2 separate regions of the Homo sapiens genome follow, and region 2 is linked to region 1. Evidence: fine-mapped expression QTL. A gene starts in region 1. The other region holds a variant in brackets. All regions are shown on one strand. Distances are between the middles of the regions.

Region 1 (5,384 bases):
GAAGGGCTTTCGCTGAACTCTAATCAAAAATTTGAAAATTAAAAAAAAATTCAAAAAGGAATTTAGTTGTTAAGATTCACTTCCCTGGGGAATCTCATCAACCAGAGAAGATTAACTGTATCACAGGAGAGGAGACTGGTGGTTAACACCATCTAAACAGACTTTGTCACAGCTGTCACCTATTCTTTGAAACACCCATTTATTTTTCTCCAAAATCATATACTCTCCCCTAAGTTGCCTACATCCCCCTTCTTTCTCCCTTATGAATCAAGAGAGCTTATAAGCTTCTACAGTTCACTGGGATTTGGGGTATTCGCTTTTCTTCCCTCCCACTCCCCCTCCCCTTTTTTTGTCTTTGAGACACAGTCTTCTGGCTCTGTCGCCCACGCTGGAGTGTGGTGGCTCTATGTGAACTCACTGCAACCTCCTCCTCTCGGGTTCAAGCGATCCTCCCACCTCAGCTTCTCGAGTAACTGGAACTACAGGCGTGCACTACCAAGCCCGGCTTTTTTTTTTCTTTTTCTCCCCCGTTTCTTTTTTGGTTATTTTACTGGAGACAGGGTTTCTCCATGTTGTCCACGCTGGTCTCGAACGCCTGACCCGCCGTCCTCGGCCTCCCAAAGTGCTGGTATTACGGGCATGAGCCACTGCGCCCGATTTGAAGGACCTCTTAAATATCTATTTAGAAATTGGTCGGAGTCCACTCCTTTCCAAAAACATGAGTCACAATCCGGGAAAAGCACGAGCGGCTGAAAGTCAAAATAACCAGAACAAAACCTCCACTCATGCTTAAAAAAGGTATTTTGACAAAATCCTAATTCGGCCAATTATTATTAGTATTCAAGTCGAAGGCTCGTCAAGCCAGACTGGGGATTGGGTCAAACATAAACCTTACACCAGACGGAAGGATTACATGCAAATGAAGGATGCAGATTCTGATTTCCCATTGGGTATTTGACATTAGCCAATGGGAGAATTCCTCACAGCCTACCTCCAGTCAGTATAAATACTTCTCTGCCTTGCGTTCTAATGTAGTTTCATTACATTTTCTTGTGGCGATTTTCCCTTATCAGAAGTAGTTATGTCTGGTCGCGGCAAACAAGGCGGTAAAGCTCGCGCCAAGGCTAAGACTCGGTCTTCTCGTGCAGGTTTGCAGTTTCCTGTGGGCCGAGTGCACCGCCTGCTCCGCAAAGGCAACTACTCCGAGCGCGTCGGGGCTGGCGCGCCGGTGTATCTCGCGGCGGTGCTTGAGTACCTGACCGCCGAGATCCTGGAGCTGGCGGGCAATGCGGCCCGCGACAACAAGAAGACCCGCATCATCCCGCGCCACCTGCAATTGGCCATCCGCAATGACGAGGAGCTTAATAAACTCTTGGGGCGTGTGACCATCGCGCAGGGTGGCGTTTTGCCTAATATTCAGGCGGTGCTGCTGCCTAAGAAAACTGAGAGCCATCATAAGGCCAAGGGAAAGTGAAGAGTTAACGCTTCATGCACTGCTGTTTTTCTGTCAGCAGACAAAATCAGCCTAACAGCAAAGGCTCTTTTCAGAGCCACCTACGACTTCCATTAAATGAGCTGTTGTGCTTTGGATTATGCCGCCCATAAAGATGTTTTTGAGGTGTTTTTAATGGCTTTGAGTGTGGCACTTTTAGTAATTTGTCCTGCAGAAATTAGATCCATAGAAACCTCAGGAATTCTAGGTATGTGGGAGAAGTGCCATGCAGCACAAAACATGTTTACAGGGGTGATTCGCGTTAAGTTTCACACACAGCAGTTACTACATTTTAGAGGAAGGAAATTATACCCATGAGTGCATTCCTAACTATCTTGAATGGAAGTGTTAAAACCCGCATGCCCCACACAAGTTTGAATATGTCATACCATTTGCTGTAGCAATTAATGGCATACACAATTGAGAGCACACACATTACCACTGAACATTTGAGTATGTATTTCCCAAAATGAGCTTTTTTCCAGTTTGGGGATGTTTTGCTTTGTTTTGGGGTGGAGTCTCCCTCTCGCCCAAGCTGCAGTGCAGCGGCGTGATAACAGCTCACTGTAACCTCGAACTCGGGCTCAAGCGATCCTCTTGACAGCCTTCTGAGTAGCTGGGATTACAGGCGAGAGCCGCCACGCCCGGCTAAGAGCATTTTTCTAATTGCCCACACTTCTTATGCGACACCCAGAAAAATACAATTTTAAATAAAGCGCATATGCAAATTTCCCTAATCGTCTCCAATATTCTCTGATTTCTTTTTTATATTTTAACTAGAAACAATTGGAGGTTTCCGCGTTGCTTTGTGTGGTTGTAAATTTTAAGACTTCAGGAAACTTTTCCAGTACAAGACTTGTCCACAGTGGATATAGCAGCTAAGGGGTTAACAAAATGACGTCAGAGTAGCTACGGTAATGGGCAGGAGCCTCTCTTAATCTGCAACCAGGCACAGAGATGGACCAATCCAAGAAGGGCGCGGGGATTTTTGAATTTTCTTGGGTCCAATAGTTGGTGGTCTGACTCTATAAAAGAAGAGTAGCTCTTTCCTTTCCTCCACAGACGTCTCTGCAGGCAAGCTTTTCTGTGGTTTTGCCATGGCTCGTACTAAACAGACAGCTCGGAAATCCACCGGCGGTAAAGCGCCACGCAAGCAGCTGGCTACCAAGGCTGCTCGCAAGAGCGCGCCGGCTACCGGCGGCGTGAAAAAGCCTCACCGTTACCGCCCGGGCACTGTGGCTCTGCGCGAGATCCGCCGCTACCAAAAGTCGACCGAGTTGCTGATTCGGAAGCTGCCGTTCCAGCGCCTGGTGCGAGAAATCGCCCAAGACTTCAAGACCGATCTTCGCTTCCAGAGCTCTGCGGTGATGGCGCTGCAGGAGGCTTGTGAGGCCTACTTGGTAGGGCTCTTTGAGGACACAAACCTTTGCGCCATCCATGCTAAGCGAGTGACTATTATGCCCAAAGACATCCAGCTCGCTCGCCGCATTCGCGGAGAAAGAGCGTAAATGTAAAGTCACTTTTTCATCAGTCTTAAAACCCAAAGGCTCTTTTCAGAGCCACCCACTTATTCCAACGAAAGTAGCTGTGATAATTTTTTGTTGTCTTAACAGAACAAATTTCTAAGGACCCCCCCGGAAAGCATTAGACTATGGTCTTAAAGTTGATTAACAGAAATAACGGTTTGGTCAGTCTTGCAGTGTAGGTTATTTCTGACCTTATTAAGGTGCTATTTGGAGAGAAGCTGTGTAAGTCCACTATCATTCAGGCCTCTAGCTTGCTATGATTAGCATTTGTTTAAACAACTTTGTAAGAGTAAGGGAAAAATCTGGTAAGTAGTTAACTGGCGCTTACTAGGCATTTTTGCAAAGCTTTGAAAAGATTAGAAAATTGTGTCTTGCGAGTTCCAGTGTCTTCCTCAAAATGCTTAGGAAGATTTTCTCAGCTCAATACATAGTCCCCTAGGTTTTCTCATATATTATATATATATATATATATATATATACTGTTAAATTCATTTGGCTGTTAACATTAACCTGAAATTTATTCTGGTGCAAAATGTGAGGCAGGGATCTAACTGGCTCTCATTTTATCCATAGCTAGCTACCCACTTTAAATCTGTCAGTCTGTCGACCAAGCATAATTTAATCCCTTATATATGAATTTTTATATGTGTGGCTTTGCTTGTAAATAGTCTATCTGGTTGCATTGCTTTGTCTCCTCTAGGACTATGCACCATGACATGCCACATTCTTTTTTTCAGTACTTCTTGCCTGTAGTTATTAAAATCTAGAATTTACAAGTTTTAACCATTTTCTTTCTGTTGATCTTGCTTTTCGGTTTTGGAGGTTGGGGATTGAGTACTGGAAGAAAATTTAGAGGGATGGGAATACTGTACGCAAACAAAAGTAATATTTACTTTAAAATTTTTATATTTTGTATTTTTTTATCATATAGCTTTTACATCACATTTTACAGACTAACTTTAGAACAACCACAGAATGTCCAACATTAAAACTACTAATTCCAAAGACCTTGCCTCACATTCTTTTTTACAATAAATATTTTTTACACCTAACATTCTTTCTTGGCCTACATCTAGAATGTAAACTGATGTACCATACTAAAATCGCCTGACCAACTGTCAACAACAACAAATCACACACACAAAAGATTAAATTTGAATTGCATCGTTTACTTAAATTCATTTGTGTTCCAGCTTTTAATAAGGCAGTTTTTGGTTTATAAAGTAATATTTGCATTTTAAAAATTATGAAAATGAATATGTCAGTTTGTTTTATGATTCGTTTTTCTTGACTCTTATACAAGCGACTCTAACTGGCATAGACATTTGTTATCCACAGACAGTATAGATATGTTAGAGATGCCAATGGACTTGGTCTATGCCAAGGTGACTACTCACAAGCTCTGGGCCCAGCTGAAGGTCAAGTATTTTTTTTCCAGTTATAGATGTGCTGGATCTGATGTATAGCGCTTGACTTTTTATATTTTCTTTATCTGTAGGAAACAAATGTGTTGGAGGTACTGGGTCTGACGAATAGCATAAAAGAATAAAGTTACATTACTGTCTGAGGATCAGATGGACAGGGGGTGGTAGCTCAGTCCAGCTATTTTCCACTCCCTCACTTACATTCTTTGCCCCCTCCTCAACAGAACAAGGATTCTGCTGTAACTCTTCATTGACAGTTGATATTTAAAAATTAACGAATGGATGAAATTCTCATTTGTGAAAGAAAATTTATTGAGCATTTTGTATTTGTGAGTAGTGCAAACATTTTAATATTATATTAAGAATCTATTGTTTTGTATTAGAGGAGTAATTAAGGAGAGATTGGAGACAAAAAGGGGGTGTTGTTTGCAGAATATACCATCCAAAAATAGACCACTGTGGGATCAGGATTCTTTTGAGCTAAAGGCACTTCAAAAACAGCATTCAAGAAGGGAATTCTTCTAAACTTTTCTTTCTGAAAACAGGAGATAAAAGTTCCAATGTGAAAAATGCTCTGCTTGTACCAGGTGAAAAGACATATTCTTCAGCCCAGAGGCATAGATGAGATAATTCTGCACAAACACAGCAGGGAGTCATAGCCGAGAGACTTCTATACACAAACAAACCTTGTTAAAATAATCATATATTCCTTTAATCTCCTCATATGGTTTACTTTCCCACAATTGCCTCTCTTTAACTTAATGTGAAAGCATTTAGCTTTTGCCATTTCTTTGGGGCTTCACTTTTTTATGAGGGTTCTCCTGTCCCATAAAATTTACATTAAATACATTTGTATGCTTTCATTCTGCTAATCTGTTTTATGGCAAATGAATTATCAGGTCCAGCTGGAGACCCTAACAGAGTAGAGGTAAAATTTTGCCT
Region 2 (5,384 bases), 35 kb before region 1:
TGAGCAAAATTCGAATGATGAATTATTTTTAAGAACTTTTAAGGGATCTGACAAGTTTGCAAGAGCTAGAGAATGCTTTACAACGTGATAATAGAATGCTCTGTGATGACAGAAATCTTTCCACACTGTTCAAAACTAGCTACTGGCCACTTGTGACTATTGTGCACTTGAAATGTGACTGGTGTCTGAGGAGCAGAATGTTTAATTTTACTTAATTTTAATTCATTACAATAGCTACATGTAGCTAGGGGCTACTGGATTGAACAGCACAGCTCGAGTCTTTTAGAGGGAGACAGGACTCACCAAGATGGATGCTGGTGGCCAAGCAGCAATGGCAGGTAGTACACACACAAGAGGCAGATGATACAACACATCCTTCCCAAACCTGGAGATAAGCTCACCCCACAATCCCGCCGCTGAAATAGAGTTGATGTTACCAATGTGCATTTTTATGTCCTTTTCCATACAGAAAGATCATTCAGCAAGTACTATGGTACTTAAAAAACAACATTCAATTCATTATTATGACAAAATTAAATTAATAGCTCTTCCTTAAACTTTTAAATTCAATTTACAATGCTTACTATTGGCATTTATTAATCTACCAATTTTTTCCCATAGAACCCATAGAACAAATAATCTACCAAATTTTTAACATTCATTTTTGGCAAGGCTTTTGCAATTTGACGAACTTTAAGAAGAAAACTTATAAATTGCAATTTTTAAATCTGACATACTGGACTTTTAAAGTATCCAATTGACTAATGAACAAAACTGCTCCAAATTTTTCAATTCTTAAAAATCTTAAGACAATACTTAATATGGCAAATCTTAACTTCTTAAACTTTGTAAGAATGCTAATCAACTTAGATTGGTATAAAGTTGAGTTAAAAATCACAGGATACATCATCTCAGCTATAAGTTTTCATGAGTTGAGTTTTTACAATCACTTGAAATGCTTAGAATAGGAAATACGTATAAATTATTTAACATAAAATATTGTTACAAAACCTCTGGAGTGTCAGTTTCTCTGGCCAGACTTTATGCTGCAGCACCTTTGCCTGAGTTCTTGTCCTGCATCCAGGAAGAATTAGGTACAGAGGCAAGAGTCAAGAAGATTAGTTTTCCAATAGTTCAGCTCACCTAGTTAACTCCTGTTCACAATCTTCAAAGTTATCAGAAACCTGCAATTGAGGGTTATAATCCATTCTTTGCAGAGTTTCAAAACAAGACAACATTTGTCTATGAATGTTAAAATGTCCTAGGGTAGTCACAGTCAAAAACACAATTGACAAAGAAATTTAGTCACCTCTGTGATTTACAATAGCCTAACACAATAACTCTAATTATAACTGATGACACAAACTCAGATATCAGAACTCTAGAAATCCCCTATAATTTTGGAACACACATTCACAGTTTTCACTGAAATATGACCTGAAGATCAAATATCACCTTATTTCAACAATCCTATATAACTAAACGTGTCAAATGATCCTGTTTACCTCTCCTTTGGATACTCCAGGGGCCCTCTGTAGCATCCAAAAGTTAGGGGTTAGCAAAGACAATTTTGAAGCTGTAAAGGCTCAAAACACTTAATGAACCTCTAGTCATATCTGTTCTCTACTCACTAAATGCTAGTAGCACCTCTCAGTTGTGGCTAAGCTGGGAGGATCTCTTGAGCCTAGAAGTTTGGGGACGCAGTGAGCTATGATTATGCCACTGCACTCCAGCCTGGGCAACAATGCAAAATCCTGTCTCAAAAACAAAAACAAAAAACAAATTGCCTATGCTGTGGTTATCTCACAATTAATAAAAAGGAAAAAAAAAGTATGCAGTCTTTGTAGGTCCTTGGGGTTTGTTGGAACTCAGAAAACAATACCCCAAAATAAAGACCGCAGAAGCCAAAGTTTTTCTCTGATCTTCTCCTGCCCTCCTGTCTCTGAGTCCCATTCTCCCCGGAGTCTAGCCATAGAAATGAGAATTCCTCTTCCTCAAGTTAGGTCATAGAAATCAAAACACCTTTTCCCCAGAGCCCAGCCATAAAACCTAAAAATATTACTCTAACTTTCCCTCTGTTTTTCTGTGTAAAAACTGGCCATAAAGAAATTATCTGAACTACCTTATTTGATCATAGATCACCAGACCGCATTCCAGAGAGGATCCAGAAGGAAGGAATGCTGCACAGAGA[G/A]GCGAAGAAGAATCTAGACAGACAGGCCTTGCTGGGTTTCCCTACTCTGTTTATTAGCAATCCTATTTCTACACGGCGGCCCATACTTTGTTGAATCTAAAAAATAAAAATGGACAATTTCCCCTGTACATGTTAATACACATTAATAAATTGGATATAAATTGGATAATTTATTAATATACACATTAATAAATTGGATGCAGCCGGGTGCAATGGCTCACGCCTGTAATCCCAGCACTTTGGGAGCTGAGGCGGGCAGACCACGAGGTCAAGACCACCCTAGCCGAAATGGTGAAACCCCGTCTCTATTAAAAATACAAAAGTTAGCTGGGCGTGGTGGCACATGCCTGTAGTCCCAGCTACTGGGGAGGCTGAGGCAGGAGAATTGCTTGAACTCGGGAGGCGGAGGTTGCAGTGAGCCGAGATTGCGCCACTGCACTCCAGCCTGGTGACAGAGTGAGACTCCGTCTAAAAATAATAATAATAATAATAATAATAATAATAATAATAATAAATTGGATGCATTTTATCCTATTAATCTTCCTCTTGTCGGTGGTTTTCAGCGACTCTTCAGAGGCCAAAGAGTAAGTTTTCCCTTAGCCCCTACAGGTTCTTATGTTTAATTTGTTACTCTCATTTAAGACATAATTAAAGTGGCTTCTCCATGAAGATTATTTCTGCATCCATTATTTGGTAAGATTGGCCGTTTTCTCCTTTGATCTCTACTTCACACTGACCCACATAAAACATCACTGCCTGTTTTTTTGTTGTTGTTGTTTGGAGACGGAGTCTTGCTCTGTTGCCCAGGCTGGAGTGCAGTGGTGTGATCTCCGCTCACTGCAAGCTCCGCCTCCCGGATTCACGCCATTCTCCTGCCTCAGCCTCCTGAGCAGCTGGGACTACAGGCACCCACCACCAAGCCCGGCTAATTTTTGTATTTTTAGTAGATACGGGGTTTCACTTTGTTAACCAGGATGGTCTCGATCTCCTGACCTCGTGATCGGCCCGCCTCAGCCTCCCAAAGTGCTGGGATTACAGGAGTGAGCCACTGCGCCCGGCCCCGTTTTTTTTTTTGGTTTTTGCATGTCTTCTCCCTTTTACTGTAAACTATTTCCACTACCAGCGTAGTTATCATTTCTACTGCTTAATAATTGTTTTGGGGAAGTGAATGCATCAACCCACATGAATTTCTTGTCTATTTGACAATTTATTCTCTTTAGGAATAGTATTAACTCCTAAGGTCCTGGGAGCCAGTCTCTGTACTTGGCTGCTCCAGGGTCCTACTTCAGTTTCCCAGCTTCTCAGTACTGTCACTGTCAATTGTGGGTAATAATTATTTTTGTCCACCAAAAGACTCTGTATGTGAATGAGTTTTGAAATCTGCTGAGTAATACAGTGTCAACCCAGTTAATGATTTGCCGGGCGGCTTGATCAGGGGCTGTCCAACTACCGGCATTTTGATTTGGAGCGTCATCTAGTGTCTGAAAGCACAAACAACATCCTACATTGTAAATGCCTTTGGCTACAGAGATTGAAACCAAAGCAAACCTATGTTTTGAATTGTTATTCTTCAGCAGTTCTGCTAGCTTTGAAAAATCTAAAAGTTAAAAAAAAGCTTTATATTTCATTTTCTGCCTAAACTCTTTAAAATTGCTAGTTGACAATTAGATATTTTCAATTTAATGAAATTTTTTTTTAGTTCACAGATTAATACACAATGGGGGAGGGTTCTTATTCTGTTGGACTTTTACATAACCTCCACTTTAGTGCAGTCTGCTTTATGGGGTCTTGTTTGAGGTGTGTGTGTGTTTAAGGGAATGTGGTTTACAATCAAAATATTGGGTTGCTCTTAGGCACATTGTAAAGTCACACACCTGTATTCTTATTGATACATAATGATTAATAACATTATTATTACAGCCTGATCACCATCATTATTGATATATCTAAATAATGAATTTTATAATTTTGCTTCCTGTCAGGCAAGAGCCAATTTCAGTGCTACCATGTTTGTATAGCAGTATTTATGTCTGTCATCCTCAGTCATTTTACTTCACTTGTTCTTAGCCAAACGGCCGAGAAGCGATGGTCATTTTACTTCAAAAATGAAAAGAATTAATATTTTTACGTTTCCCTTAAAGACCCTATGTTTAACCTCCACTCCTGGGTAAAATGGTCTAGTCCCTCCTTTTCATATCATCTCTGATATCTTTTGCACAGCCACTATTACCTACCGTTTTCTAGATCCCTATTCTTCAAACACCACCATGAAGGTAGAGCCTGTCTGAATTATTTTCTTGTCCCCTGAACTCAGTACATTGTTAGGCTTCTTGAAGATGTTGATCAGTTGTTTGTGGAGTGAATGAATCAGCTAGCATGATTTTTCTAGACCACTGAGACAAGTGTCTAAGACACTTGTTCCTTCCCATGTTCTTGCCTGCCTGTGCAATCCATGCAGTCTCATGGCTTCCCAGTGCCTCAGAATTATCCCCTGTCAAACAGGCATTATAATTTCTGTCCACTGAAAAGGACAAAAAACTAAGTGTATAGCTAGAAGTTAAAAATTACCGGCCAGGTACTGTGGCTCACTCCTGTTATTCCAACATTTTGGGAGGCTGAGGCGGGCAGATCACCTGAGGTCAGGAATTCGATACCAGGCTGGCTAACATGGCGACCCCGTCTCTATCAAAAATGTAAAAGTTAGCCAGGTGTGGTGGCTCGCACCTGTGGCCCCAGCTACTCAGGAGGCTGAGGCAGGAGGATCGTTTGAGCCCTGGAGGTTGAGGCTGCAGAAAAATAGGAATATACTCTCTTTCAAGAGTTCGTGGTTTTGACTGCCACCTAGCGTACATCAGAAAAACCGCATGACATAGGAAATGCCTGTGACAGAGGGGTAAGGTGAGAGAGGTTGATGAAGAATGTATTGAAGGAGTGAAAACGCTTCCATCCCTCTACTTACTAAATATATTAGTTAAGTAGTTGGGGCATATTTTAATTCATGCATTTTGTAGATAGAAAAACAAAAGTTTTATTCTGTTTGATTTAGTTGATACTTTAATATGTGTGTGTTTAGGATGCATGATTTATAATCAGTCTGCAGCACTTCTTGGAGAAGTCTGAATTCTCATTCTCCATTTCCTTATTGGCAACGTGAGAATGATTACAATGGTGGTTGTCTCATAGAATGCAGGGA

What was found. PIP is the estimated chance that this variant, and not a neighbour inherited with it, causes the effect.
Region 2: its variant is the best candidate, but not a certain one, in a credible set for the expression of H3C2 in whole blood (INTERVAL, PIP 0.83).

What each region holds. Positions count from the first base shown.
Region 1 is chr6:26,029,266-26,034,649 of GRCh38, reverse strand. It overlaps H3C2 (H3 clustered histone 2), which reads left to right and starts at 2,551. Exons shown (of 1, transcript NM_003537.4): 1 at 2,551-3,061. The coding sequence starts at 2,590. The coding sequence ends at 3,000. It overlaps H2AC4 (H2A clustered histone 4), which reads left to right and starts at 1,032. Exons shown (of 1, transcript NM_003513.3): 1 at 1,032-1,558. The coding sequence starts at 1,082. The coding sequence ends at 1,474. RefSeq lists enhancers at 505-554, 595-654, 958-1,587, 2,525-2,644, 2,685-2,914 and 1 more and a silencer at 1,075-1,174.
Region 2 is chr6:26,064,365-26,069,748 of GRCh38, reverse strand. No RefSeq gene overlaps it. Among named protein-coding and RNA genes, the nearest start is that of H1-2, 11 kb to the right of the region's middle. RefSeq lists an enhancer at 2,637-3,136 and a silencer at 4,983-5,122. The variant G/A (reference allele first, on the strand shown) is at 2,192.